Linked DNA regions of Homo sapiens. The protein of the gene in region 2 interacts with the protein of the main gene of each other region in a pairwise test. Each region holds a gene or a part of one and is shown on either strand. Other genes may lie near its edges.

What was found.
Region 1: the proteins of CCDC125 (region 2) and ZNF230 interact in binary tests that used the Homo sapiens proteins (3 or more experiments, as listed by UniProt).
Region 3: the proteins of CCDC125 (region 2) and RAB2A interact in binary tests that used the Homo sapiens proteins (3 or more experiments, as listed by UniProt).
Region 4: the proteins of CCDC125 (region 2) and BMP7 interact in binary tests that used the Homo sapiens proteins (3 or more experiments, as listed by UniProt).

What each region holds. Positions count from the first base shown.
Region 1 is NC_000019.10:44,005,762-44,012,981, forward strand, and holds part of ZNF230 (zinc finger protein 230), read left to right. Parts: intron 1-1,249; 5' UTR 1,250-1,317; coding exon 1,318-1,332; intron 1,333-3,028; coding exon 3,029-3,155; intron 3,156-3,322; coding exon 3,323-3,409; intron 3,410-4,507; coding exon 4,508-5,703; 3' UTR 5,704-7,220. UniProt on the Homo sapiens protein: May be involved in transcriptional regulation.
Region 2 is NC_000005.10:69,322,631-69,329,850, reverse strand, and holds part of CCDC125 (coiled-coil domain-containing protein 125), read left to right. Parts: intron 1-5,138; exon of another isoform or gene 5,139-6,048; intron 6,049-7,220. UniProt on the Homo sapiens protein: May be involved in the regulation of cell migration.
Region 3 is NC_000008.11:60,511,895-60,520,040, forward strand, and holds the start of RAB2A (ras-related protein Rab-2A), read left to right. Parts: upstream 1-5,092; 5' UTR 5,093-5,313; coding exon 5,314-5,359; intron 5,360-8,146.
Region 4 is NC_000020.11:57,256,566-57,263,785, reverse strand, and holds part of BMP7 (bone morphogenetic protein 7 preproprotein), read left to right. Parts: intron 1-7,220. UniProt on the Homo sapiens protein: Growth factor of the TGF-beta superfamily that plays important role in various biological processes, including embryogenesis, hematopoiesis, neurogenesis and skeletal morphogenesis.

The DNA.
Region 1 (7,220 bases), on a different chromosome or scaffold from region 2:
TCCTGTAATCCCTGCTACTTGGGAGGCTAAGGCAAGAGAATCACCTGAACCCAGCAGGCGGAGGTTGCAGTGAGCTGAGATCGCGCCACTGCACTCCAGCATGGGTGACAGAGCGAGACTCTGTCTCAAAAAATAAAAAAATAAAGTCCTTATGACTGTGTCCCCTACCCCACCCTTCACCTGCAATGCCATTCAAAGTCCAGTTTATGCATTGTCTTTAGTTGTCACATTCCACAGTTTCTTTAGTCTAGAAAGATTCCACAGTCTTTGTCTTTTATAAACATGGTGGTTTTTTTTTTAATAGGAAAGTTATTTTGGAGAAAGATGTTCATTTGGAGTTTGATATATTTCATGTTTAGTTTCAGATTATGTATTGTTGGTAAGGATATTGCACAAGTGATGAGGTTTCCTCTTTATTGCAACATAACAGGGTTCACATGATGTGGTTTGTCCCTTCACTGGTGATCTCAACTGTGTTCACTTGGCCAAGATGATGCCTTTCAGATTTGTCCGCTGTAAAGTTACCTTTTTTAAAAAAACTCAAGTTTCTTATTGGAAGGTACATTATTAGTGGGCATTCTACTAAAGATGAACTTCTAGTTCTCTTCATTTATTCATTTGTTTGTTCAAGTATAAATCTCCCAACAATATGGACTCAGAATTCAGTCTTATGAAGGTAAATGACATGTGGATTAGCAATTTTTTTTCAACTCTATTGAGGTATATTTTACATAAAGCATTCACTCATTTCAGGAGTACAGTGATCTTTAGGAACTTTGTAAAGTGGAGTAACCATCATCATAATTCAGTTTAGTTATTTTTCACCCTCAGTTGGACTCTGTGCCCATTTACAATTAAACCTCATTCTCACCCCAAATCTGGAGCAACCACTAACCTACTTTTCCTCTATGTATACATTTGCCTATTCGGACATTTCATATAAATGGAATCATCTAATCCATGGATTTTGGTGACTGGCTTCTTTCTCTTATGATGTTTCCAAGGTTTGTGCATGTTGTAGCATGGGTTGGTACTTCATTCCTTTTAATTTCCAAATTAGATTCCATTATATGGATATGCCATGATTTTTCTATCCATTTACCCAGAGGAAGGCATTTTGGTTGTGCACAGTTTTGGGGTTAGTATGAATAATGCTGCTGTGATCATTCATAATACATGTGCTTGTTGCTACACAGCCTCCCCAGCCACCATTTCATGTCTCTCTTTTGCTGTCTCTGGCATTTTCCAGGCACAATTCCACCTTCCTTTGTGCTCCATTACTCAAGACACTGAAGACTCCAAAAAGTAGTAGGAAAAATGACCACATTCAAGGTGAGTAGAGCTCACCTCTCTTGCTATTAAAATTCCATCTTATTGCTCATATTGTCATATATTTTTCTCTGTCTTGGGAAGACTCAAGGAGGAAATGGGCATTTGGGACCTGTTGTGTGCCAGTTGCTTCCTTTGTCTCTTTTGTGTTGACTTTGCATTTGGTTTTTGGTTTGGGTTTTGTTTTGTTTTTTACTGTTACATTATGGAGTAGAAAAATTAGTAGGAATGAACAGTGCTCCCACTTCTTCACCTCCTTGCTCTCAAATTAGCCTGATTTTTCTTCTTGTGCTGTTCCTTGTACATTCATAACTGTATTTGTATTGATGATGGAGTTCCTTATGTCAAGAGTGCTCTATACACCAAGATAACATGTCCTTCTGGTTTTCTTCATACTTGTCCATCAGATAGTTAGTCCCCCTTTCTGTGGAGGCCCACATTGCGCATGTTGGCTCCATTTCTCTTAGATGCTCCAGGGACCCTCTGACCCACTTCACCCACCTCCTGAGTCCTCTGGCCCCAGGAATGAGCTATTATTTAAGGTGTCGCAATCAGCGGATCACACACCAAGCTCCTGTGTTTCCGTATTCTGTCCTTCTGTCTCAATCCATGCAGCCAGCTCACATCTGTGGAGGGGTGGCCTGTGTCCCGCTTATCATTCTGTCTTCTTTATAAATCATCAAGCTGCTGTCCAGCCTGCGCCCCCAGGCTGCCATCACAGCACTGGGCCAATTGCCCAGGATATAAGTGCTCCCCCTTTGCCAGTCCAGAGTTCTGTCAAATTGGACCCTGCTGGCTGCACCAATTCCATGGAACAGGTTCACTAGTTACAGACTTGGCGAGTCTACCATGAGAGAGCACACTCATGTATGACAAATTACATAAAGCAGATTTATTACATGTAGGTAGCAAGGGACAACAGAAGCCTATGATCCACTGTGAGCCAGTCCTCCAAGGCTTAAGAAAGCTGCCTAGAGTGGGTGGAGTCACGACTGCACTTGCCCCATTTGCACCATAGCTGAGGCACCCCAAGAGGCAGCCTGTCCCAGGCTATATGCCTCAGGGGTAACATGACTTACTGAGCAGTTCCTCTCTAACTCAAGATATTATCTTTTATGGATTGGACTAGAACCAAAGAAGGCATAAAAAAAAATAAAAAGATGTTATCTTCCCTGGGAAGGACACTGCATAACTAGCACATTTATGGTTATTCTTGAGACCTATAAACAAGAAAGTGGGGAGAATGGATCCAAGGCTACTTTGAAAATAGTTACCTAAAACCTGTTAGTTTGGCAAATACTAAAGAAAAGTGATAGCATCCAGGGTTTGGGTCTGAGAGAGGAGGACAATAAGCCTCATCAAACAAGGTTGAGACTGAATTGCTCATTGTTGCTGGGGCAACTGGGGCAATTGGCAAAATTCATTGAAACCTATATAGGTGTAGCCCAGGATGCACCATTTGAAATCCTAAGGGGTTACTTACAAGGAGACTCAGTAAGTGCACAAAGTAAAAATACAGGAGGTCTTTTTCATGATTGCACTTCTGGTGGAGCTCAGGAAAATCACTGTCAGGATACAGACAGAATGAGTGGGAAATCTATAAGTTGACCTCCACTTCTCCTCTCCGCCTGCTCAATGCTGCTCCTCCCCCAGTAGTCCATGGTCATAGGATTGAGGTTATGTATCCTTGATGTTATAGGAGGCAGTGACCTTCAAGGATGTGGCTGTGTTCTTCACTGAGGAGGAACTGGGGCTACTGGACCCTGCCCAGAGGAAGCTGTACCAAGACGTGATGCTTGAGAACTTCACGAACCTGCTGTCAGTGGGTGAGCACAGGCACCCTCTGTAATGGTACATCAGGCCTCAGGAGTGGCTTTGTATCCTAGAGTATTCAAGTTTGTGTATGCAGTGGGAACTTAAATTTCCAGTAAATTTTACCTTGATATTACCTAGAATGAATTGGTATTAAGCACATGACTTTGCATGTTCACAGGGCATCAACCATTCCACCCTTTCCACTTCCTAAGGGAAGAAAAGTTTTGGATGATGGAGACAGCAACCCAAAGAGAAGGAAATTCAGGTAAGAAGCAAGCAACTGTGTGTCCTTGTACATGACTTTCTTTCCCATTTGTTTTACTTCTGACCATGCCCACTTATATCACCCTGATCTAAATTGCCCAATCTCTTTCCTGGTTTATTACAACCCCTTTCTGGCTGGTGGTCCTGTTCCCTCCCTTCCACCCTGACATCTATTTTCCCCCGAGCAGCCAAAATGATCCTTGGGAAATGCAAGTCAGTTTTCCACTCCTTGGTCCAAAAGCCTTTATGGTTTATTAATGTTATTAAAGTTACAACCTCTTTATTGGCTTTTAGAGACCCTGAGGTTTGTTCTTCATCCCCTGCTGCCTCTTGACTACATCTGTCCTCTCGCCCTTGCATCATCTTTTCCAGCCACGTTGTCCTCCCTGCTGTTACTCTGTCCTGTCATGGACACTGTATTCCCTGTTGCTGGTAACAAATAACAGACTTCACAGATTAAACAACACTTTTGTTCTTTCTGACATGGGGAGGACGGTCTCCCACCCCTCACCCTCGAAAGGAGTGGCCAGCCACAACCCTAAATCATATTGTTTCACTATCCAGAGTGATCCAGAGTTGGCACCCTAACAAACAAAGACACTGTCCTCCCGCATGATATGTCAGGATCCTAGAGATTACCTCTCAGATGCTGAGGACAAAGTTCTGACTTCTTTTTACTTAGGGTAACTTCTATATAAGGATATACAACATAAACACAGATATATAAACTATTGATTTTGTTATTGTTTTTCCTTAAATTTCCTTTTGATTTATATTTCACTATGAACATAATGTTTTAATTTAGTAATTTATCATGCAAGATTTTTGACTGACCAGAAAATTCCTTAGAAATAGTAACAAATTAAATGTATATATTATATCAGTTTTTTAATGGAGTCTGTTATTTCCATCAAGGATTTTACATATGAGACATGGTGTGGTTATAAATTGGTCACATACAAACCAGAAAACAAGATTCATGGGGAAAACATAAACTGAACATTCATTAAAGTTGAATGCCATATCCTAAGTGTGAAATCTTAAAAACACCAAACAAAGGCTTCATTTGTCCACATCTCTTCATTCTGTGTCCTTATAGGCGGCAAGACTATTGCGGAAGCAGGACCACATGAAGACTGCCCTTGCCAGCAAATCTGGGAACAAACTGCAAGTGACTTAACCCAGTCTCAAGACTCCATCATAAATAATTCTCACTTCTTTGAACAAGGTGATGTCCCCTCCCAGGTTGAGGCAGGACTATCTATAATTCATACAGGACAGAAACCTTCACAGAATGGGAAGTGTAAACAGTCCTTCAGTGATGTTGCCATCTTTGATCCTCCTCAGCAGTTCCACTCAGGAGAGAAGTCTCATACATGCAATGAGTGTGGAAAAAGCTTCTGTTACATCTCAGCTCTTCGTATTCACCAGAGAGTTCACTTGAGAGAGAAACTCTCTAAGTGTGACATGCGTGGTAAGGAATTCAGTCAGAGCTCATGTCTGCAAACTCGTGAGAGAGTCCACACTGGAGAGAAACCATTCAAATGTGAGCAATGTGGGAAAGGCTTCAGATGTAGAGCGATACTTCAAGTTCACTGCAAATTACACACAGGAGAGAAACCTTATATTTGTGAGAAATGTGGGAGGGCCTTCATTCACGATTTCCAGCTTCAGAAACATCAGATAATTCATACTGGGGAGAAGCCGTTCAAATGTGAAATATGTGGTAAGAGCTTCTGCCTTAGGTCAAGTCTTAATAGGCATTGCATGGTCCACACAGCAGAGAAACTGTACAAATCTGAGGAGTGTGGAAAAGGCTTCACTGATAGCCTAGATTTGCATAAGCATCAGATAATTCACACAGGACAGAAACCGTACAATTGTAAAGAATGTGGGAAGAGCTTCAGATGGTCCTCATATCTTTTGATCCATCAGCGAATCCACAGTGGAGAAAAACCATACAGATGTGAGGAGTGTGGGAAGGGCTACATTAGTAAGTCAGGTCTTAACTTGCACCAGAGGGTCCATACTGGAGAGAGACCTTATAATTGTAAGGAATGTGGGAAGAGCTTTAGCCGGGCTTCAAGTATTTTGAATCATAAGAAACTCCACTGCCGGAAAAAACCCTTCAAATGTGAGGATTGTGGAAAGAGGCTTGTACACCGGTCTTTCTGTAAAGACCAACAAGGAGACCACAATGGAGAAAACTCATCCAAATGTGAGGACTGTGGGAAGCGCTACAAGAGGCGCTTGAATCTGGATATAATTTTATCATTATTTTTAAATGATATGTAAGTTGTACATATATATGGGATATGGTATGAAATTTTAATATGTGTATATAATACGTAATGATCAAATTGATGTAATTAGTGTATTACCTTAAACAATTAACATTTCTTTGTTTTGGGAAAATTCAAAATCCATTGTTCTAGCGATTTGAAAAGAAACAATAAATTATTGTTGATTATAGTCACCTTTGGTGCTTTAGAACACTAGAATGTATTTCTCCTATCTAGCAGTACTTATGTATCTTGTTACCCAATCTTTGGCTATCTCACCTAACCCCTACACTTCCCTGCTTCTAGAACCACTGTTTTACTCACTAATTCTATGAAATCAACTTTTTTAGCTTCCATATGTGTGTGAGGACAGTTAGTATTTATCTTACCTTGCTTAGCTTATATTGTTTAACATGTCCTCCAAAGCTCATCTATGTTGCCACAAATGACACAATTTTGTTTTCTTTTTATGCCCAAAGAGTATTCTATTGTGTATATATGCCACCTTTTCTTCATTTATCTATTGATGGACACATAGGTGGGTTCCATATCTTAACTATTGTGAAGAATAGTGCTCCAATGAACATGGTAGTGTAGATATCTGATCCACATACTGATTTCCTTTGCTTTGGATATACTCAATAGTGGGATTGCTAGATCACTCGAATCTTATGCCTCAGAGGCTTGACACAAGAGCAAAACTATGGAAGTGTGGCTAGGGTGATATGGCTTCATACCACCTCAGGCCTCAAGTCCTCAACTGCACCAGAGTGTCCACGTTGGACAGAATCCTTAGTAATGAGGTGTGTGATAAAGTCTCTGCTCAGTTGTCTATAATCTCATTTGAGAGTTCACAAAGGGGCAAAACATTAAAAAGAGGCATATGGTAAGCACTTCAGTGTGTGTTTATATCATAATTTATCACAGTCCATACTGATAATATATTTCATCCAGGCTTGTAGGACAGAAAACATTTGTTTAAGTTAAATTCAGTGTTTCACCATAGCTCAGCATTCTCCCATCATCCTAGGACCATCGTAGTAGAGAACTCTTGTAAATTGTGCAGTAGGGTTGCAAACAGAACTTACGCTTGTCATTCAGGAGACAGGCCTTAGAATAAGAGTTTGTTCACACATTTACAAAACCCTAATGATGAACATGTCAAAAGTGGTGACCACTAGAATGTCAACTACAGGTACCTTGTTTTCTGCATCCTCAGGACCTTAACACTGATTAGCACTTACATGTTTAGTATGTGTTAAATGACTCAAAAGGAGAAAATATGATATTTTAAAATTGCATCTAGGAGAGAAAATCTACAAAAAATAATTCAGGGACACGAGTTAAAATGCAGAATACACTCAGTTCTGCAATCCAAAGCATTATTTTGGGTAATCTTACCCTGTTGCACTTGGCTGCTGGCTTCCCCTCATCCTCTGTTCTGAAGTTTACTACTAGTGGCTTTGTCTAATGCTCCATTGGTTGCATACAATATAAATTCAACAATCATTTGTAACTCTTCTCACACTA
Region 2 (7,220 bases):
TGGGGCAAGTCACGTATGCCTGGGCTGGAATAGAAAAAAATACATCCGAGCTGGGCTCGGTGGCTCATGCCTGTAATCCCAGCACTTTGGGAGGCCGAGACAGGTGGATCATCTGAGGTCAGGAGTCCGAGACCAGCCTGGCTAACATGGTGAAATCCCATCTCTACTAAAAATACAAAAATTAGCTGGGTGTGGTGGCAGGCACCTGTAATCCCAGCTACTCAGGAGGCTGAGGTGGGAGAATCACTTGACCCAGGAGGCAGAGGTTGCAGTGAGCCGTGATCACGCCATTGCACTCCAGCCTTGGTGACAAGAGCAAAATTCCGTCTCAAAAAAAAAAAAAAAAAAAAAGACTTGAATCCTGGCTGGGCATGGTGGCTCACACCTGTAATCTCAGCACTTTGGGAGGCCGAGGCAGAAGGATTGCTTGAGCCCAGGAGTTTGAGACCAGCCTGGGCAATATAAGGAGACCTCGTCTCTACAAAAAATACAAAAATTAGCTTCTACAAGAACAAAAAAATTAGCCAGGTGTGGTGGCACATGCCTGTAGTCCCAGCTACTCGGGAGGCTGAGATGGGAGGGTCACTTGAGCCCAGAGGTCGAGGCTGCAGTGAGCTGTCACTGCACTCCAGCCTGGTCAACAGACTGAGACTCTGTCCATATAAAAATAAATACTTTAATCCTAAACGTTGACACATCTATTTTAGACAGCATATATTGATATGTTGGTTCAAGTCGTCTTTTAAAAGTCAAAGGTAGGCCGGGCGTGGTGGCTCACGCCTCTAATCCCAGCACTTTGGGAGGCCGAGGCCAGCGGATCATGAGGTCAGGAGATTGAGACCATCCTGCTTAACACGGTGAAACTCCATCTCTACTAAAAATACAAAAAATTAGCCGGGCGTGGTGGCGGACACCTGTAGTCCCAGCTACTCAGGAGGCTGAGGCAGGAGAATGGTGTGAACCCAGGAGGCGGAGCTGGCAGTGAGGTGAGATGGCGCCACTGCACTCCAGCCTGGGTGACAAAGCGAGACTCCATCTCAAAAAAAAAAAAAAGTCAAACGTATAAAGTATGAAGGAACCTCTGTGTTTATCTATTCAAGATTACCATATAGTACAGAATCAGCTGTAGATATTCTTAGATTTTGTAGTACTGTTAAAATACAATATTATAAAAATGGTATATGGAAAAATACTCTAATCCTACTAATTTATTTTTATCTTTTGTTTTTCTTCTAATCTTTGTTCTAGTACAGACAACTTTGAATTCTGCTTTTTATGTTTTACACTTGTATATGTGAGCATTTATCATGTTGCTGCCTAGTCTATACTACATAGTATTTTTATTTTTATTTTTATTTTATTTTTATTTTTTGAGATGGGGTTTCACTCTTGTTGCCCAGGCTGGAGATTATTCTTAAACTATGTTAAATACACTATAACTCTAATACTTATTTAATTAATTTTGTTTAATTACATAGTATTTTATAAAGTTGTTAAACCAAGATTTAACTATTTCTTTATTGTTCAACATATTTTATTATTTTCTAATTTTGTCCAATTAGAAATTAAATGGTAGAGTAAATTGCTGAATGCATTGAACATAAAACAGGCATAAATACAGACTCATTTTAATTTAAAAAATTAAAACAAAAAAAGTCCAGGCTTGGTGGCTCACGCCTATAATCCCAGCACTTTGGCAGACAGAGGTGAGCGGATGGCCTGAGGTCAGGAGTTTGAGACTAACCTGGCCAACATGGTGAAACCTTGTCTCTACTAAAATACAAAAATTAGCTGGGCATGGTGGCAGGTGCCTATAATGCCAGTTACCTGGGAGGCTGAGGCACAAGAATTGCTACAACCTGGGAGGCGGAGGTTGCAGTGAGCTGAGATTGCGCCATTGCACTCCAGCCCTCAATAAAACCAAAAGGACACTTTTATTCCTAGCAAAACCTAATAGTCTGGAGAACATGTTCCATGGAGCACACTTTGGAAAATGCTGATACAGAAACAATTTTAGAGCTCTGAAGAACCAAAAATCTAGTCCCCTAAATTGACAATTGAAGAAAATAGTATTCAAATTCAATAAACATTGATTTGGCTACCATAGTTGATTTCAAATATATCAGTGGTGCCCAAAAATGTCCCAATAAAGTAGTTATGCTTAAACCCCTGTTAAGAAATAAAACAGGCTCTAAGAAGTTAAATGACTTACCCAAGATCAAAAAGTGGCAAGTGGTGAAGTGAGATTTGAACCCAGACCTCTCGAGTCAGTGCCTTCTCCGTTAACACATCCTGCTGCTTCCCTGGTCATCAACCCTGAATACATTAAACTGGTTGGATAGTTTAGTGACTTCAAATATTTTCACTTTCTTGGAAGTAATGTGTTTCAAAAGTGAAGTTTAATTTGTATGGTATTTCATGTTACCTTACTATCAGCATATAAAAAGTGGGAGAATAGGCCAGGCGGGGTGGCTCATGCCTGTAATCCCAGCACTTTGGGAGACCGAGGCAGGCAGATCATGAGGTCAGGAGATCGAGACCATCCTGGCTAACGCGGTGAAACCCCATCTCTACTAAAAATACAAAAAATTAGCCGGGCGTGGTGGCGGGCACCTGTAGTCCCAACCGCTCAGGAGGCTGAGGCAGGAGACTGGCATGAACCCGGGAGGCGGAGCTTGCAGTGAGCCGAGATCTCGCCAGGGCACTCCAGCCTGGGCGACAGAGCAAGACGCTGTCTCAAAAAAAAAAAAAAAAAAGTGGGAGAATATACAGTCAGCAGTCCCTGAAGTTACATTTTATTTTATTTATTTTTAGAGACAGGGTCTTGCTCTGTTGACCAGACTAGAGTGCAGTGGCGTGATCACAGCTCACTGCAGCCTTGACTTCCCACCTCAGGCTCCCGTGTAGCTTGGGACTACAGGTGTGCACCACCATGCCCAGCAGTTTTCTTTTTTTCCTTTTTTTGTAGACATGAGGTCTCACTGTGTTGCCCAGGCTGGTCTGAACTACTAGGCTCAAGCAGTCCTCCTTCTTTGGCCTCACAAAGTTCAGGGATTACAGACATGAGCCACCATTCCCAGCCTGAAGTTAAGTTTAAGAAACAGTAGGCAGGGATAAAAAACAAACAAAACAACAACAAAACCTCATTATATTCAACTCTGAATAGCAGGAAGGCGTACCCATGATGCCTGAATTTATGTGGTGCATTGAAAAATATTCTTAGCTAACTCTACAATTGCTTACTCTTTCCTTTTACAGCTTTTCCCCCTTATATTGACCAATTCCATTTTCTTCTCTGCTGCCTGCCTAATCCTGACCACACCCTTCTTAACACAGGCCAGAGGTTGCCCTTAACAAGCAGGAGTCTACTGCACTAGAGGTAAAACACAGCCTCTCAAGGGATTATTCTTTGATTCAATAAATATCTTCTTATCTACCTTGACAAAATAGGTAAATCTCCTTTTTAAGGAAATAATCTTGTAAAAGAACCAAGATGATTTTATAAAAATCTGGGAAAAAGTGGATCCAGAATCTGTTAGATGTTGCTCAAACTAGATATTTTAGACTTTTACTTTAAGTTCTATTTGAAGTCATAAATAATAGAAACTTGGTATACTCTGATGTTAATTTCATTGAAATTCTCCAAATAATACAAAACAGTGGCTAAGAGTGTTGGCTCTGACATCAGATATCTGGATTAAAAATCTGTCTCTGGGCCAGGGGTGGTAGCTCATGCCTGTAATCCCAGGACTTTGGGAGGCTGAGGTGGAAGGATCCCGTGAGGTCAAAAGTTCAAGACTGGCTGGCCCGAGACCCTGTTTCTACAAAATGAATTAAAAATTAGCCTGGCAAGGTGGTACACATCTGTAGTCCCAGCTACTTTGGAGACTGAGGTGGGAGAATCACTTGAGCCTAAGAGGTCGAGGCTGCAGTGAGCTGTGGATGCCATCACTGCACTTCAGCCTAAGCAATGAGCAACAGAGTGAGATGCTGTCTCTCTTTTTTTTTTTTTTTTTTTTTTTTTTGAGACAGAGGGTTTTGCTTTTTCACCCAGGTTGGAGTGCAGTGACACGATCTTGGCTCACCGCAACATCCACCTTCTGGTTTCAAGTGATTCTCCTGCCTCAGCCTCCCGAATAGCTAGGATTACAGGCACCTGCCACCACACCTGGCTAATTTTTGTATTTTTAGTAGAGATGAGGTTTCACCATGTTGGCCAGGCTGGTCCTAAACTCTTGACCTCGTGATCCGCCCACCTCGACCTTCCAAAGAGCTGGGATTACAGACGTGAGCCACTGTGCCCAGCCCGAGACCCTGTCTCTTAAAAAAAATCCATCTCCACTTCTGGTTGACTGTGTTACTCAGTCTCTGTCTGCTTCAGTTTAATTTTCGTACTTAATAATGGTATTTTCTTGCAGAGTGTTTGTAAAGAATAAATATAATCTAAGGCACTTAAAACTGTCTAGCACATGGAAAGCAGGCAACAAGTGCTAGGTATTATTACATCTTTTTTTTTTTTTTTTTTGAGACAGAATCTCACTCTGTTGCCCAGGCTGTAGTGCAGTGGTGCAAGCTCGGCTCACTGCAACCCCTGCCTCCCGGGTTCAAGCCATTCTCCTGCCTCAGCCTCCCAAGTAGCTGGGACTACAGGCATGCACCACCACACCTGGCTAATTTTTTGTATTTTTTAGTAGAGATGGGGTTTCACCATGTTGGCCAGGCAGGTCTTGAATTCCTGACCTCACGTGATCCGCCCACCTTGGCTTCCCAAACTGCTGAGATGCAGGCATGAACCACCACACCCAGCCTAATGAGTTTTGATAAGTGGCCACTGTGGTGAAGATATAGAAGTTTTCCATTACCCCAGAAAACTTCCCTCATGCCCTTTGTGGTCATTTCTCCAATGCCAAGCAACCATTAATTTGTTTACCATCATTGTGTGTTAGTTTTCCCAGTATTTCATACAGTATGTGCTGTTGTTTATTTATTTATTGTTTTAATTAGTGATGGGGATCTCGCTATGTTGCCCAGGCTGGTTTCGAACTCCTGGCCTCAAGTGATTCTCACACCTCAGCCTCCCAAAATGCTGGGATTACAGGTGGGAGCCACCACATCCGGCCTAGTATGTGCTTTTTTGTTAGCGTAATGTCTGGGAAATTCATTGCATATATCGGAAATGCATTGCATGTGTAATGCATATGTCAGAAATGCGTTGTTCTTTACTGACAAATATATTCTGTTGTATGGACAGACCACAGTTTCTTTGTTTTACTGCAGATGGACACTTGGGTTGTTTCCAATTTTTGACAAATTGAGTGATGTATGAATATTCATGCACACATCTTTGTACGGACATGGGGTTCTGTTTCTCTTGAGTAAATCCTGAAGAATGCAGTTGCCAGGTCACATGTTTGTAAGAAGCTATCAAATTGTTTTCCACAGTGGTTGTACCATGTTTTACTCACATCACCAATGTATGAGAGTTTCAGTTACTCCACATCCTCAGCAGCACTTGGAATTGTCAGTGCGGTGAGGTGGAATCTCACTGGGGTTTAAGTTATAATTGCCTGATAACTAATGATGCTGAGCATCTTTCCATCCATGTATCTTCTTTGATGACATATCTGTTCAAATCTTTTAAGGGTATTTGTTTTTAACATTGAAAATATATGGCATTTTGATCCTAAAAATGACAGAAATTCCTTAATACATGGTCAGATTTATTTGGTGTCTACATAAGGTTTAATAGTGGAAGAATAGAGAGATCTCCACAACAAATGCAAGACTGAGATTAAATGTCTTTCGAAGTTTTGGAAGCAACTACTTAAACAGCAGGATATTTAGAGAAAAATGTTAGACATGTTTATACCCCCACACCCCACTTTTTTTTTTAATGAGCCTTGAGAGAAGGATGAAATATTTCTAAATAGCTATAGCAAAGCAGCTGTTTTGAAATGCCTGGTGGTGAAAGTCCCTCTTAACTGCACTCTGTCCTGGAGGCACAAGGTTGAGCATTTCTGCTTCTCCCGGCTGCTTCACTGTCACCAGGTAGGTGACTAGGGTGGTCTCCACATGGGGAGGGCTCAGTGATACTAGTTGATCTGTAGGCATTTTTGCCAGGAGAAGTTTTCTGCTGGGAAGAAAGGCAGGCATAACTCCTCTGTATCTGCTGTGGAGTCCTGCTAGGGTGCCGGTTTTGTTTTTCTGCCCTAAAAGCAAGTACAGTCTAACCAAACCTGCTGTGCGTGGCCTGAGGTGGGATAGGAGCTCCGTGAGTTCCACATTGGTTGATTCAACCAACCAGGGTTGAAAATATTTGGAAAAAAAAATCCACAGTGTTCCAAAAACAAAGACGAATTTGCAGGACTCAGAGTACGAGGTTAAATCCACGGGAATGAAGTGATGTATAGGCAGTGTATTAGATATTATACGTAATTTAGAGACAATTGAAAATATATATAAAGTACACAGGAGGATGTGCCTAGATAATATGCAAATATGATACCTTTTTGATTAACAAATTAACAAATTTTTTTTTTTTTGAGATGGAGTCTTTCTCTGTCGCCCAGGCTAGAGTGCAGTGGCGCAATCTCGGCTTACTGCAACCTCTGTCTCCCAGGTTCAAGCAATTCTTCTGCCTCAGCCTCCTGAGTAGCTGAGATTACAGGCACACGCCACAATGCCCGGCTAATTTTTTTGTATTTTTAGTAGAGATGGGGTTTCACCATATTGGCCAGACTGGTCTTGAACTTCTGACCTCAAGTGATCCGCCCACCTTGGCCTCTGAAAGTGCTGGGATTACAGGCATGAGCCACCGCGCCAGGCCGAACAAAAAATTTTTTGAGATAGAATGTTGCTCTGTAGCTTAAGCTGGAGTGTGGAGGCACAGTTATGGCTCACTGCAGCCTCCACCTCCCAGAGCCAAGCAATTCTCCCACCTCAGCCTCCTGAGTAGGCGTGTGCCACCAGCTAATTTAAAAAAAAATTTTTGGGCCAGTGCGGTGGCTCACACCTGTAATCCCAGCACTTTGGGAGGCCAAGGCGGGTGTATCATGAGGTCAGGAGTTTGAGACCAGCCTGACCAACATGGTGAAACCCCGTCTCTGCTAAAAATACAAAAATTAGCCGGGTGTGGTGGCGCGTGCCTGTAATCCCAGCTACTCAGGAGGCTGAAGCAGGAGAATTGCTTGAATCCAGGAGGCGGAGGTTGCTGTGAGCTG
Region 3 (8,146 bases), on a different chromosome or scaffold from region 2:
GTTTGTTTTTAGAGACTGAGTCTCATTCTGTCGCCCAGGCTGGAGTGCAGTGGCACAATCTCAGCTCACTGCAACTACCCCCGAGTTCAGGTGATTCTTCTGCCTCAGCCTCCCAAGTAGCTGGGACTACAGGTGCGTGCCACCATGCCCAGCTAATTCTTGTATTTTTAGTAGAGATGGGATTTTGACATGTTGACTAGGCTGGTCTCAAACTCCTGACCTCAGGTGATCCACCTGCCCCGACCTCCCAAGGTGCTGGGATTACAGACATGAGCCACTGCGCCCAGCCTCCTGTGGTTTTTTGTTTTTTGTTATTGCCAGTTGTGAGAGTTGGGGCAGAGGGAGAGATATATTTCCTTTGCAGCTACAGTTCTTATTAACAGGTTGAAGGTGGAGGAGGACAAGGAGGAGAGGAAAGGAAGGGGGAAACAACCTCAATGTTTAAGAAGTGTCCTCTGTGTGCTTGACATAGTGCTAGACATTTTATATATGTCATCTCAGAGGGGAAACTAAGGCTTAGAGCATTTAGTAATCTATCAAAGATCACTCAACTGATGTTGAGTGGTAAAGTCAGGATTTGAATCTAATTATTTCTTCTTCCAAAACTGGTACTGAGTTCCGGTGTGGTGGTTCACACCTGTAATCCCAGCACTTTGGGAGGCCAAGGCAGGTGGATCACTTGAGGCCAGGAGTTTGAGACCAGCCTGGTCAACATGGCAAAACCCCATCTCTACTAAAAATACAAAAATTAGTCGGGTATGGTGGTGTGCACCTACAGTCCCAGCTACTTGGGAGGCTGAGGCATGAGAATCGCTTGAACTCAGGAGGTGGAGCTTGCAGTGAGCTGAAATCGCACCACTGCACTCTAGCCTGGGTGACAGAGAGAGACTTTTTCTAAAAAACAAACAAACAAACAAACTGGTACTGAGTTTAAGTATTTGCTGGAAAATTAGTTCTGTTATGGTACTTGGAGATGGCTGAAGGAAGGCATTTCACAATTGTTCTTAATTATTTCTGGGTCATGGAAGAATCTCTCCCATAAAAGTGTACATGTGCAAATATATACATCATTATCAGTTTTGCATACCATTTCAGAAGGAGTGGCTAAGGAACCATGGAAACCAAGGCAAAAACCTCAAGATTACAGTATTCCCAACCACCTTCTCCCATTCCACTCCACCCTATCCCTCTTCCCAAAGCCTGAGAGTAATTAAAACCAAAGAAAATATAAACATGAAAGTTTAGTTGGGAGAAGCAAATGCAAACTTCTAATATAGTATTGTACTCAAAAATGTCATGGAGAACTTGATTAGGAGACACTGAAGAATGTAGTGCTACAATCTTGAAATTTCACAGTTATGACCTTCAGACCATATATGATGTAAGGCTGAGAGACAGAGTTACCACAACACATCCTAAGAGACTGAAAATAGCCGAAAATCAAACTGAATGGAAAATTCCAGGAAGTATACTATATTTAATGGAAGAGAGGTTTATTTCTGTTATTTTGTCTGGGGGACTTTTCTTGAAAAATATGTTTGGATTTTTATGGGCTAAAGAAAATGTTTTAAATGAGGTTTATGTGATTTTTATTTATACCCTGTATTTTTTCGAAGATTTAAGAGATTATAGGTTTATAGAAAATATAACAAAATATTATGAATCATACATAGGAAAAAAGGTAGAGACATAAAATAGAGCCAGGAACAAACTTAATTTTAAACCATGAATTTATATAGTGATTAGGCCTTTAGTTCCTCAAGTTAATTTCTTTTTTTTCTTTTTAATTTTCTGTAGAGACAGGATCTCACCATGTAACCCATGCTGATCTTCTTGAACTCCAAGGCTCAAGGGATCCTCCAGACTTTGCCTCCCAAAGTGTTGGAATTACATGCATGAGCCACCGCACTCAGCCCCTCAAGTAATTTCCAAAAATTATGCAGTGCAAAGAGTTTTATGTATTAGGTATACATTTTTCATAATTTACACAGTATTTTCACATACATTATCTCATTTGATCCTAAATGGACTTTGTTAAGCAGTTATTATCCACATATTCCAAATAAGGAAACTGAAGCCCAGAGAAGAACTTGAAAATCCTGTTCTTCAAGGTGGGAGAATTGCTTGAGGCCAGTAGTTCAAGACCAGCCTGAGTAACAGAGGGAGTCTCCATCTCTCCAAATAATAATAATAATAATAAATGATATAGGCGTGGTGGCATGTGCCTGTGATCCCAGCTACTCAGGAGGCTGAGGCAGGACAATCACCTGAGCCCAGGAAGTCAAGACAGCAGTAAGCCATGACTGGGTCACTGTACTCCAGCCTAGATGACAGAGCAAGACCTCCTCTCAATCAATCAATCAATCAATCAGAACAATATGCATTTGACATCTATGGCCCCTGCATTTTCACGAGAGGATTACTACCTTCTTTACAGATGGCTTTAGATTTGGAGGCTGGCTAAGCATAAAATTAAAAGACGTCATGCTTGGAATAGCCCTTTTAAGAAACACTTAACTCCTTTACTTAATAGACAAGTGCACTGAACCACTCATAATTTTTTAAATTATTTTTATTTTAATAATTATTTTATTTATTAAGACACAAGGTCTCAATCTATAGCCCAAGCTGGAGTGCAGTCGCACCATCCTAGCTCACTGCTGCCTCAAACTGCTTGGCTCAAGCTATCCTCCCTCTTCAGCCTCCCAAGTAGCTGGGACCGCAGGCACAAGCCATCGCAACCTGTGCTCTGAAGCTTTAAGAGGCCAAACGATTCCTCACATTCATCCGATCAGTTACAGGTAGAGCCAAGACCAGAAGCCAGGTATCCTATTTTCCTTATAACACATTGCCTCTATAGCTTTATATCCATTTCTATGATTTTTGTTACATACCCAGTTCTGACCATTTCCTGTCACAATTTCCTTTGTCTACTAAGTAAAGTTCTAAATGCATGGTGACATAACATACAAGGCCCTACATAACCTGGCACAAGAGACCTCTCCAGGTACTCTCCTCCTCTAACAGTGTAGGAATACTCCTGACTCCTAGGATGCCAGGCATTTGTATAACATCCTAATAGAGTTGTGCTGGTGAAGGAAGGCCACATCCCTCTATCTTGTGAGAGTGAAGACTTGAGTTTCTCCATCACCAAGGAAGACTTGGGTGAAGGCACTCAAGTGGGAGGGACAAAATGACATCTGAAAACTGGAGGCCTTGGGCAGGGACCTCCCCTTCCTCAAACTAAAGGTGAATGAACCAAATTTTGCGATTCCAGGTAGCTTTTCATGTCAAATTTTCATGTCAAATTCTTCCGTGCCATCTCTGACCCTTTAGTAAAATCCCCTCCAAATATTCCAGAAAAACCTTGTGAGTTCATATTTGGCAAGGCCATCCAAAGCATGTTAGCAACCCAGCATGATGGTGTCAGTACTAATTACATAATGAGAGGCCCCAAAGAGAAGAGTATTAGGCAACAGGAACGAGGGCCACTAAATCCCAATCGCTTTTCCCCAGCAATGATTCTCCTTCAATATGAGGTTATGGGTTATGAGGATATGAGTTAGTCAATTAGCTTCCTTATGCAACTTCAAATTCCCTGAACAGATCCAGGAATTTTGCACATTCTGTTCCTTGTCCATAAACTTTGGTTCCCCTCCCCAAACTGTTGTTCTTTCGACAAACTCTATACATAATTCATATTCCTGGCTCAGAAATCATAATCTCTAAGTAACCTTTCCTGACACCCTATTCTCCACCTCCTCTTCCATAACCTGTGGTCTTTTTGAACAGAGTGGTGACATTTTGGGCTGGATGACTGAAAAAGCAAAGTAGAAAAACAGAACATAGAACATACAGGGCCTCCAGTTGCTGTGCCTGGCGGTACATGAAACATAGTATTCAATAACTATTCTTTGAATGCACAGTCATTTTGTTTTTTCCTTTAACAGTATTTCCTAATAGGTAACTCATGAACACTGCAAAAAATGTCAAACTGCACAAAAAAATTCAGGGAAAAGTACATTTTCCCCCCAATCCCATTCCCTCCTTTCTCTTAATACCAGTTAGCTTTCCTTTCAGATTGATTATGCATATATGGGTATGTAAATGTTTTCCCACTATTTGTTACACATAAAAATTATATACAATTCATATATTACATATGGTGCATGTTATATACACACACATAAACAGATCATCTCGGTTTTGCTTAACCTAAGTCAGGCTTTTTTTTTTTTTTTTTTTTTAGAGCAGCCCTCAGAACCAGGACAGGTTCAGAGACTTTATTTATTTTTTATTTACTATTATTATTTTGAGACGGAGTCCCGCTCTGTCGCCCAGTCTGGAGTGCCGTGGTTCAATCTCGGCTCACTACAACCTCCACCTCCCAGGTTCAAGTGATTCTCCTGCCTTAGACTCCGAGTAGCTGGGATTACAGGCGAGCACCACCACGCCCGGCTAATGTATTTTTAGTAGAGACGCGGTTTCGCCATGTTGGCCAGGCTGGTCTCGAACTCCTGACCTCAGGTGAGAGCAACGTAGTACTCCACTGTGCGTGCATACCATGATTTACTTTGCAGTCCCAGATTTACGGTTTCCAATTTATAAATACTGCCATTTTCACCTTCAAGCCCCGATGCCAAACACAGAAATACCAGGCCACCCCCACCCCCTCGCCGTGTGCCTCCCACATTTTCACACACATTTTCAGGAGCCCAGGGCGCAGCCTCACACCGAACGCCGCCTCTGCCGTCCCCTCACTTGCCCCGTGCCCCCACCGCAGGGCTGAAGGCGACGGAACCGAGCCTTTGTACCCCCACCAGCCCCGTTCCCTGGCGTCTCCCGGCCGCCGGGCTCGCCCGCTCAAACGTGGCGGAACAACCGGAGCCGGGCCCCGCCCTGCTGGAAGACAGGGCGGACCGGGCAAGGCAGGCGCGGGGCGGGGCGGGGCGGGGCTCCGGCTGGCGGGGCGCGGCCAGCGTGCAGGGCTGGGCCAGCGTGCGGGGCTCCTCCCCTTTCCTCCGGCGGCGCCGGCGGCCGCAGAACTTCCGGGTCGGCGCGGAGGCGGGGCGGAGGCGCCGCGGCGGCTGTTATTGTTCGGCTGGGCTCGGTCGGGCGCTGTCTCCCTCGGCTCTGCGGGTGTCAGTTCGTCCGGCTTCCTCACAGCCCCTCACTCCCGGCGGCTGACAGCAGCAGCGGCGGCGGCGGGCGGCGCCTGGCGTTTCGAGGCTGAGCGGCACCGGGGTTGGGGCGCGGAGGAGGAGCAGCAGCGGGAGGAGGAGCCGTGTGCCCTGGCACTGAGCGGCCGCGGCCATGGCGTACGCCTATCTCTTCAAGTACATCATAATCGGCGACACAGGTGAGGGCCCCGGGCGCGGCCGGGCGGGTGTCGGCGGCCTCCGGACCCGGGCTGAGGGGCAAACGGCGTCTGGCGGTGGCGGGGACGCGGACTCCACCCGGCGCCTCCCTCCTGGCCGCGCCGCTCCATTTCCGCAGTGCTGGAGCTGGTGACGTGGGCACTGCGAGCGGCCGCGGCCTGGCCAGGCCCGGTCTGCGGCCCCCGACCCGGCCAGTCTTGCAGCTGAGGGCCGTGGCAGCCGTTTGCGACGCCCGATTCAGGAAGTGTGTGACAGGAGGGGAGGCCTAGCGCAGGGCCGCCGGGGCCCGACTCACATGACTGCACCCCACCCCCAGGGCCCCTTGCGTTAGGTCTCTTCGCGGCCCCAGGAAAAAGAAGGAGGGAAACCTAGGGGAGCAGAAGGTGTTGGGGCCCGGGTCTTGGTTCCTGACCAGTCCAACCTTCCTCCACCAGCACGCATCTATCAAGGCCTGGGCAAGGCGCTTTTTGGCGTGGGACAGGCAGCCGAGAAAGAGAAAAGGAAACCTTTAAAATATGTATTTTATATATATACATATATATAAAATATGCTTTTTTAACACCTTCAACTCTCACGTCAGAATAAGTCACATCTCATTACTTGACGGCTGGAGAATCCCTTTCGGGGTTAGGAAAGCATGAACGAGTTCTGTGGACTTTTGCCACGTGTGAACTGGGGTTATATAGTAATGTAAAGTCGTTCAGTGCTCTGGGTGTGTACTTAGGTATGTGTATGTTGAGGACGCTGATGTTTTAGATATGTCAAGTCCGGTGTCACAACTGCTAATTTTCAGGTGAGCTCATGTCCATGAGCTGAAAGAAATTCAGTTATTCTCACTTAAAATGACGTCCTAGTATATTTCACAGAAAAGTAAACAGACTCTTCGTAGATATTTTTAATACCTGTGATTTGGCATTACTTTGAATCTAATAATAAACATAAAGATTGTTTAGATGTTGCAACTATTAATATACCAGAGTCTGATTTCAGTGGTTACTCTTGCACAACTTTGGACCCTTTGCACAACTTCGGTCATGTAAGCAGCAGTTTGTAGTTGAACTAATGATGTGGCAGGTTCTATAAGTAACTAAAGAAGCATGTTGGCCGGACGCGGTGGCTCACACCTGTAATCCCAGCACTTTCGGAGGCCGAGGTGGGGGATCACCTGAGATCAGGAGTTCGAGACCTGCTTGGCCAACGTGGTGAAACCCCGTCTCTACTAAAAGTACAAAAGTTAGCCGGGCGTCGTGGCAGGCGCCTGTAATCCCAGCCACTTGGGAGGCTGAGGCGGGAGGATCACTTGAGCCCGGAAGGTGGAGTTTGCAAAAAAAAAAAAAAAAAAAAAAAAAAAGCATATTTATTGCTGCCTGAAAGAAAAAATTTCTGCTAGATACATGAGTTTTCAGCAAGGTTTTCTGATGCGTGCGTGCGTGTGTGTGTGTGTGGAAATTGGATTTGTAAACTTTAAAAGAAAAATGCTGTGGTGTATTTGGAAGAAGGAGAATTCTAAAGTCTTCTGGCAAAATTTCATTTAGGCTGTAAAAACAAGATTGGAGAGGAATGCCACATTAACTGTAATATGAGTGGGTTTGAGAAATAGAAGCTTGTGACTGTGGCATTTGGCTATCTCATTAGTGGTGAAAATTCAAATCAGACTTTGCTGGTTGCCTTTTTTCAGTTTTTTATTTGAGGCTGTACTGTGGATAAATAAAGTATTGTGCATGGAGTAGTGGGGCTACAAATCCTAACAAGTTAATGCTCTGTTCTCTTGGAATTTGCTCTTATCCAAAAGCAGTCCCCACGCAATTCAAAGGGAAGACACTTCTTTCTTGTCATTGCTGCTGATACGACCTAGTTCAGGAACAGAATTCTTGACACTGTTATAGTCTGCAGCAGTACTTCTCCCTACTCCAGTTCAGCCAGTGTAGTTTACTGTCAGTTTAGTCATCCTGAAGCATGAATGTCAAAAGGCTACTCCTGTTTGCTCACAATTTTTAGTTTGACCTTCAGTGAACTCTATATTTTAGCCCCTATCTACATTTCTCGCCTTCTTTCCCGCTATTCCCCACCTTGCTTCTGCCATTGAGTCCCAGTGACTGATTTTGGTGTTTTTTTCCTGGGCACTGCTAGTCTCTATTCTTAGAGTGCTTTCCGGCACAATCTCTCCCTGTGGAAGATCCATCAGTCCTTCAAAGTCTTATCTGAGTTTTCCGTAATGCCTTCACAGTCAACATATATTAAGCTCTTATTGTGTGAAGATTTTCACAGTATCCTGGCTGAAAGTGACTACTCCGTTTCTGAATTTATGTTTCTCACTTTGTGTCATTCTTCTGATATTGATCCCAGACTTTTCTGTTGTATAGATACTTGTATAGGCACCTCTATTATGTAGGTACCTATTATATACTTCTTGAAGTCAGAAAAGATGTTTTGTATGGCTCTGTATTTCTTTCAGGAAGAGCGTAGTAGAAGGTAGGCCCTGTATATTTAACTAATAAGAGAGGAGCCAAACAGGCTACTATATTCCTGTTTGTATATATTAATAACTTAACAGAAGTGGTGTCGTTGTTGTTGTTGTTGTTGCCCAGTTCTGCCACCTTCTTGCTTACTAATTTGGGCAAAATCCTTTACCATATTTCTTTAATGCAGAGTGTACCCATAGTTGTAAGATACACTCAGTGTGGCCCTCCCCTAGAAAAGATGACTTTAAAATCAGTAATGTGAGATCCACTTTGATTTTTTAAAAAGTCAGGGTCAAAAACATGCAT
Region 4 (7,220 bases), on a different chromosome or scaffold from region 2:
ACCAAAAACTAAAGGAAAATTCCAAATACATACATATAAATAATGAACGCAGAGCTCTGTCGCCCTCCTGAAGCCTGGGGTTAGCCAGGGCCCTTTCTCTGGTGGGGGATTTATAGCATCTTCCCTTCTGTTGGGTACCCCGGACTCCCACTGAATGTGCAGGTCCCAGTGGCTGCCTTCAGAGCCTGGCTGGAATCATTAAAAAGGTATTTGTAATCTCTGGCTTCTGCAGAAGGCCCTGCAAACCAAGAGCAAAAAAGCCCCCAGTGCTTATGGGCCGGCAGTGTGGGCTAGGCCCCGGGGCTCCCTGTCCCCAAGAGAAAGACCAGGTTGCTCGGAGGGTGCCTCTGGGAACTTTGGTGCGGGCTATTTGCTCCCCCCATGGCGGCAGGAGCAAGCTGGGACTTGTTTGGGAAGGCCACAGCTGGGTGGTTTTCCTCCTCTGGCTGTACATACACCTTTCAATCCATTTCTTTCATCTTGAAAGGACAAAGACCGGCTTGTCTGAGCCTCTTAATCAGTCAGGCTGGCTTTGGGCTTTGTGGGACCCTGACTTTCTCAGGTCTAGCTTTCTGGGACATCACTCCAAATTAGATGGCAGAGTGGCTTTTAACAGAGCGCACTGACCTTGTTTTCTTTCTCTCTCTGTCCCTAAACTCGAGGTCATTAGTTAGGTGAAGACCTGGGCTGCAGTTTGGCGAGACACTTCCTGTAGATGCTTCTAATGTTGGCCTTTAATTTCTGCTAAGCAGCAGCACACAAATAAATGGCCTGTCCCTTCTATCCTGTTGTAGCTTGGAATTTCTCCATAGGAGGGACTTGGGGGTGGCAGTAGGGTTGGAGAGGGTTGGGGGGAGGTGTAGGAGACTTGTCTGGCCACTGAGTTTGCTGAGAAAGTACTGCTATAGTGTTTTTCCTTGGATTGCAAATCATGTTGATCTGTAGTATTCGAAGTTTTCTAAAGGCAAGTTTATTCTCACAATTTACATAAGAGTGAGAAAATATCACTTGCACATATCAAACTATTACTTCTTATTATGGTGGGAGTTTGGCGGGGGGGGCATGGGTGAGGATCTTGGCAGCCTCTGCTGCCCCTTCGCCCTGCACTGCAGAGCTCTGCTGTCTTGCAGGCAGGCGGCCTGCGTGCGCGGGAGGGGGGACCCTTGCCTGAATTCTGAAGGCTTTTGCAGACCTGGTGCATTTATTCTTCCTTCTGTCTGCCGCCAAACTGGTTTTTGTTCCTATAAGTCGTTCTTGGAATTCAAGTTTTTTGCCAGGCTGAGCGGGATCTAAACTAGAGGGGAAACTAGAGGGGAATTTACGACAAAACCAGGTGGTGGGAATGAGGACTAAAGGCCGCACCTTATGACAAAGCCCAGCCTGTACCATAAAGCCCCAGGCAATGTGAACTGAGCTGCCTGAGTGAGACTCCCATCTTCCCAGCCTGGGCCCCTTAAGTTCAATGGCAAGATTTGTAAACTGGTTTGGATTAACAACCCCGACTCCTCTTTGTAGACTTAATTTTGGAATTCAAAACAGCTACCCTCTCTTAAATAATCCCCAGGCAATGGCGACTCCGCACACTGCATCTAGCCATAGCCCGTTACCATTCTTTCTCTGGGAAGATCCAGCAGCTCTGTTAGGAATCTTGTAAAGTAGCCGGCTGGCACTAGGGGAGTGGAAGTCATCATGTTTATCTCTGGTCCAGGTAATGAAGGCATGAAATTTGTGTAATCTTTGAAGGAAAAGAAGAGAAAGTTGGAAACCTATCATTATTGGAGTCAGCCTATAAAAGTGGCTTTTGTTAATGTAGCTGAAGAGTAGGGAGAAGGCCGTGCAGTTTGATTTTTGCTTTATGCCATCTGGCTGTCCTTTTTGTTGACAAGTGTTTGGCATTAAGACCTCTCCCACTGCCCGTCAAGAGCAGGCCCTACCACTGTAGAGTATTAGAAAAAGATTCTGTTACAGTTTAAAAATTTCCTTCAGGGAGTGCTTCGCAAAGGGGAGCGTGGACTGCAGGCATTTGCAGCTGTAACCTGGCTTGTGTTAAAATTTGGAAGGGGCTGCTCCACATTCCAGCACTCGGAGCGCCGGCCCTCACTGGTGAGCAGCCAAAGGTTAATATAGATGTCACACAGCTCCCCCCTTCTTTCTTTCTGCAGAGCGCCTTTGCTATAGGAGTGCACCAACAGCTGTGTTTTTCGTAACCCTTTCAAAATCACTTCTTTTAAACCTCATTTTCCTGCTTATATAAATCAAAGATTTTCCTCCACTTTTCCCAAGCATGTATGTGACCCAGCTTTGAACTTTTTTCATTTTCTATGTATTTTCCTTCTGGAATCAAGGCAGGGTAAGGCTGAGCCCTGGATGCCAACTTGGGTGGCTGTTTTTGGTTTTGGTTCCAGGGTTGTCATTCGGTTGTGGAGCGGTCCCCATGGAAGGGGTAACAGAGATGGCCCACTTGCAAATCAGTTTCAGGGCAGCAAGGGGGATGATTGTCTGAATGCACAGACAGACGAAACCGCTTTTGAGATGCAGCCCTCTCAAGCTACGGTTTGGGGCTTTACCATGGCGTAGTAGGCTCTCAAGCCTTTGCCGAGATAAACACAGCTGGTGCGCGATCCCCTCACCACCGGAATGCCTGCGATGTGAGTGAATATCACGTGTCCGCTGAACTCAGAGACAACTGGTGACTTCATTCCAGGGAGAGTCCCATCTAAGTTGATTGATCACTCCTATCACTTTAATATCTCTCCCTCATTTGGTAAGGTCATATTTGGCCCATTGCAAGAATCAGCGTGCCCTAAGTCTCCCCCGTCTCCACCCTTCCCCATCTGCCCATCCGTGTAACAGCCTGAATATTTTGAATGGGGAGCCCTTTGCACCATGCTTCTGGCCACATTAATTCTTTCACGCTCACTCTTCAGTCTTAGCGGGGGGGCTGTTGGCACACTGGTTTCTTGGCAAGCCACTGCAAGGCTTCGCCTTAATGCACTCTGGCACTGTCACCGGGGTTAGGGCACAGGCAGGGATGTGTGGGACCTGTCATGTTATTGTCAGAAGGAATGTGCGGATTAGCCTTTACAGCGTAGTGGTGGGAGAGCACTGCAGCTGTGTACACTTATTATAAAAGATTTAAGTCCCACTGGTAAAATCAATATATTGAATTGCACAACCCTCTGCTTTTAATTAGTTTAAATCAAATGCGCCGGTGCCATTTTGCCTTCTCTCGCCTTCATGGGGTGAGGAACTACCAATATTTACATAGAAACTGTTAATTTGTGGTGAAAATGATAACACATTTAGCTTTACACACTCAAATTGCTCCAACTTGATGGATCCCAGATCAACGTGGAGTTGAGCTGAGGAGATGACGTCACCAGGAGCGGGGAGGAGACACCCGTGATGTCTGTTGCTTGGACCCTGGATTCCAGATGCAGGTGGACATGTGTGTAGAGGCAGTGACTGGGGATGCTGGTCCTTCAAGAAGCGAGCTGGTTCTTTCTATTGCAGGTCAAAAACAATGAGATTTACCTACATCATCTAAAATCCTTTCTCGGAAGCATTCTTACAAAATTGCGAAGTGGGCACTTGCTCTTGGGTCATTTTGAGCCTGTTCTCACAGCATGCAAGGGTCATGTACTGGGCAGCTCAAGGCACGGTGCTTTATTTATTCCAGAGCTTCACATGCTTTTCTTTCCAATCCCTGAAACAGTTTATAGAGGAAGGGCGTTTGTTCACTGCAAATGATCCCATGTACGACCGCGGCTATTAGTGAGCCGTTTGGTATTAGCTGTGTGTTCAAGCTGGGATTGAATTCCGGGTTTTGCAGCAAATGGCATCTGACAAATAATAATTGACAAAAAATGTGACTTGGTATTTCTTAATATGGAACAGATAGTTCATTTAAGCTTCCCCGGCAAAAAAAAAATTGCTCAAACTCAAACTGAAATAGCAATGCCAGGGAATACTAGGACTGCTGCTGTGTATTTTTTTCCGCTCCAAAGTAGAGTGTTTATGATTTGGGGGGATATTAGAGTGCATGAAGTTTGACACTTACTTATGCGAAACTCAGGCAAGCATGTGCAATACCGCCTTTTCAACATTTGTGTCGGAAGGCATTGTGGGGAGCCGCGCAAAGCCTGTGCTGATCCGCGTGGAGTGGATTGAATTAATGACAACTCCGAGAGCACCAGCTTTAGGGTAATTGCTTTATTGTTTTGGAGCCAGGGTGCATATAATCCGGTTCCTGTGCAAACATGTTGAACGTGTGTTAATGCATTTCCAAACCAGAGCCTCTCACACAACCCTGCTTTTCATTAATTGATGTCGGTAGCATGGTACAGTATTTCAAAGGGCTGGCCAAGTATAAACTGTGTTTCCAATTTCCTTCCTTTCCTGTGTTTGGAATGCCAATGTTAATTTGTTCCCATGCAGGAGCGGGGGCTGCCAACCGCGGCTTTCTATAAAGGGCTTCACAGTGAAGGCTTCCAGCCCTCGCTGATGCTTGGGGCTGCCTGGCCAAGTCTCCTGACACTTTGCAGCTAATTCTGGGTGATATATGGGGTGGGGGATTGGGGGCTTCACTGCCGTGTAACGGAAGTTCTCGGTGACAGCAGTGGGTGTGACTTGGCAAGGGAGATTGGAACGGCATCCACAGTGATTCTCTTTAGACACAGCCTAAACCTATGTGTCTGTTTCCACTATGACAGCACATTAGCTGTGTGACCTTGGGCAAGTTACTTAACATCTCTGCATTTGTGTCCTCATTTTATAAAGGCTACAAGAGAATCTCTTCCTCAACAGATTCTAAAGAAATAGAAATCATATCACCCATGCGCAGAGGCTGTCACCTAGTAGGTGTAAAACAAATGGTAGCTCTTGTTTTTATTGTGTTGGCCAGATGAAGATTTACGTTGGTATATTAGTCCAAATTTCAGTTTTTAAGTACTTAATCTTAAAATACTGAGATTAAACTGCCCATGTTATTTTAAATGTCAAGAAAATGGTCCCCAGAGTGTGAATATGTGTGCGCCTCCCTCTTTCAGAGATCAATGGAATTTGAATGAATGCACCAAACTTATTTGAGGATGAATAGAGTCTAAGGCTGAATCTTTTCCCCAATTTTAGCATCTATGGTTATTTAATGATTTTACTACTTGGGAAACTGGAACTCAGTGAGAGGGTATACCGGAACTCTCTGTAGTGCCTTTGCAACTTTGAATTAAAAATTAATTTCAAAATAAAATGTTTCATTTAAAAAATTGCATTATTGAAGTATTTCTTCCCAATCCTTTCTGGAAGATGGTCAAAGTACAAATTGTCTTTTCCTTCAAGGGAGTGACAAGCCCAAAGCATTCATTAACAGAACTGCACAACTTCCCCACTTTTTATTGGAGCAGGTGCAAGGCTGCCCAAGGCTCCCGCAGCTGGGGTTAGGCTGCAACAACAAAGCCCTGTGTGGATTCAGCATGTTTAGAAGCCTCTAGAGACCAGAGGACGAAAGAGAATGGCTTCAGGGCCAGATACCGAGGGGTGGCGTTTCTCATTCAAGACTTTCCATAAATTCCCTTCAGCTCTTTATACTGTTTGAAAAATCCGACTCACCAAGTATTAGGTTTCCCTGCATCTCTGAGGTCACGTGTTCTATCACATCTTTATCTCCCTGGAGTAGCTTTCAAGTTTCAATCTTTTGTTGCCTGGCTTAATTAAAATTGGCCACGAATAAAAACTTGCACCGTTTCCAAAATCGAGGACTTGTGTGTTTCTAAGCATTGGGTTTAGGCCTGCCCTGTCTTGTGCTTCCAGCCTGTCTTCTGCTTTCATGTAGCTTGGACTACATGAAGAAAAAGAAAAAGCTAAGCTCTTAGCATGACAGTTGGCATATAATGGTCCAAGTGCTCATCCCCCTGGCAACTTACACACACAAAGGCAGGCAAGTTTTTTTTTTTTTTTTTTTTTGGTGGCTTGTGTTTTGGCCTTCAATAAAGGACACTTTTCCTGTTTTTTTTCAGACAGCCTTATTCTCCTGCCCATGCACAGCCTTGCAGAATTCTCATGGCATAGAAGGTGCTCAGATATTGGTTGTTTCGGTGCACATATGGCATGAAGACATTCTAAGCAGTCTCTTCTAAATGCTTTTGATCTCCAATTCCCACTACTACCTTTTCAGGTACATACCTTAAATAGTAATAAGTTGTATAACTACTGCAGGATAGCTAGGATAGCTTGTGCTTCATAAAACATAGACAAAAATAGAAATTTAAGTAGGAGACACTAAAGCTAAAAGCAATACAAAATTTTGGTGTTTGTTAATTAATACAAATTTTAACTAATGAATCATTTTAATTTTAATTGTTAACACAATTTTAATTAACAATATACATTTAATTAAAATTAAATTTTAATATAATTTAATTAAGTTTGCAGTCATGAAAATTTGCGGTGCAATGGACTGTTCTTTGGTGTTTTCAAAATCATGATTTAACAGTTTAGAATCACTGATCTAAAGGCCTGGTCCCAAATTTCGATGACCCTTCATCTGGTCAGTATAAATGAAGTTATTGTGTGTGAAGAAACTCACAATCTTGGTGCGTTAAAAATCCCAGAAGTTTGTTTTTCATTTGTATCACATTATAGCTCTATCGTGGGTTCAGGGTGGAGGCGTGGAGTTCTGCACATTGGTGGCAGCAGAGTCCCTGGGAGAGGCTGAGGTCCTCAGAATGTTACGAATAAGGTGCCAGAAGGAAAGATAATGTGAACTGTGCGTTGGCTTTTAATATTTCTACCTGGGAGTGACTTTCTAACTTCAAAAATTTCTATTTTTGTCTGTTTTATGAAGTACAAATGATCCTAACTAGTAGTTATACAACTTATTTCTTTTTTTCTTTTTTTTTTGAGATGGAGTTTCGCTTTTGTTGCCCAGGCTGGAGTGCAGTGGCGCGATCTTGGCTCACTGCAACCTCCGCCTTCTGGGTTCAAGTGATTCTCCTGCCTCAGCCTCCGAAGTTGCTAGGATTATAGGTGCCCACCACCACGCCCAGCTAATTTTTGTTATTTTTTTTTATTTTTTATTTTTAGTAGAAATGGGGTTTCGCCATGTTGGCCAGGCTGGCCTCAAACTCCTGACCTCAGGTTTTATCCACCCGCCTTGGCCTCCCAAAGTGCTGGGATAACAGGCGTAAGCCACCTTGCCCAGCCACAACTTATTTCTATTTAGG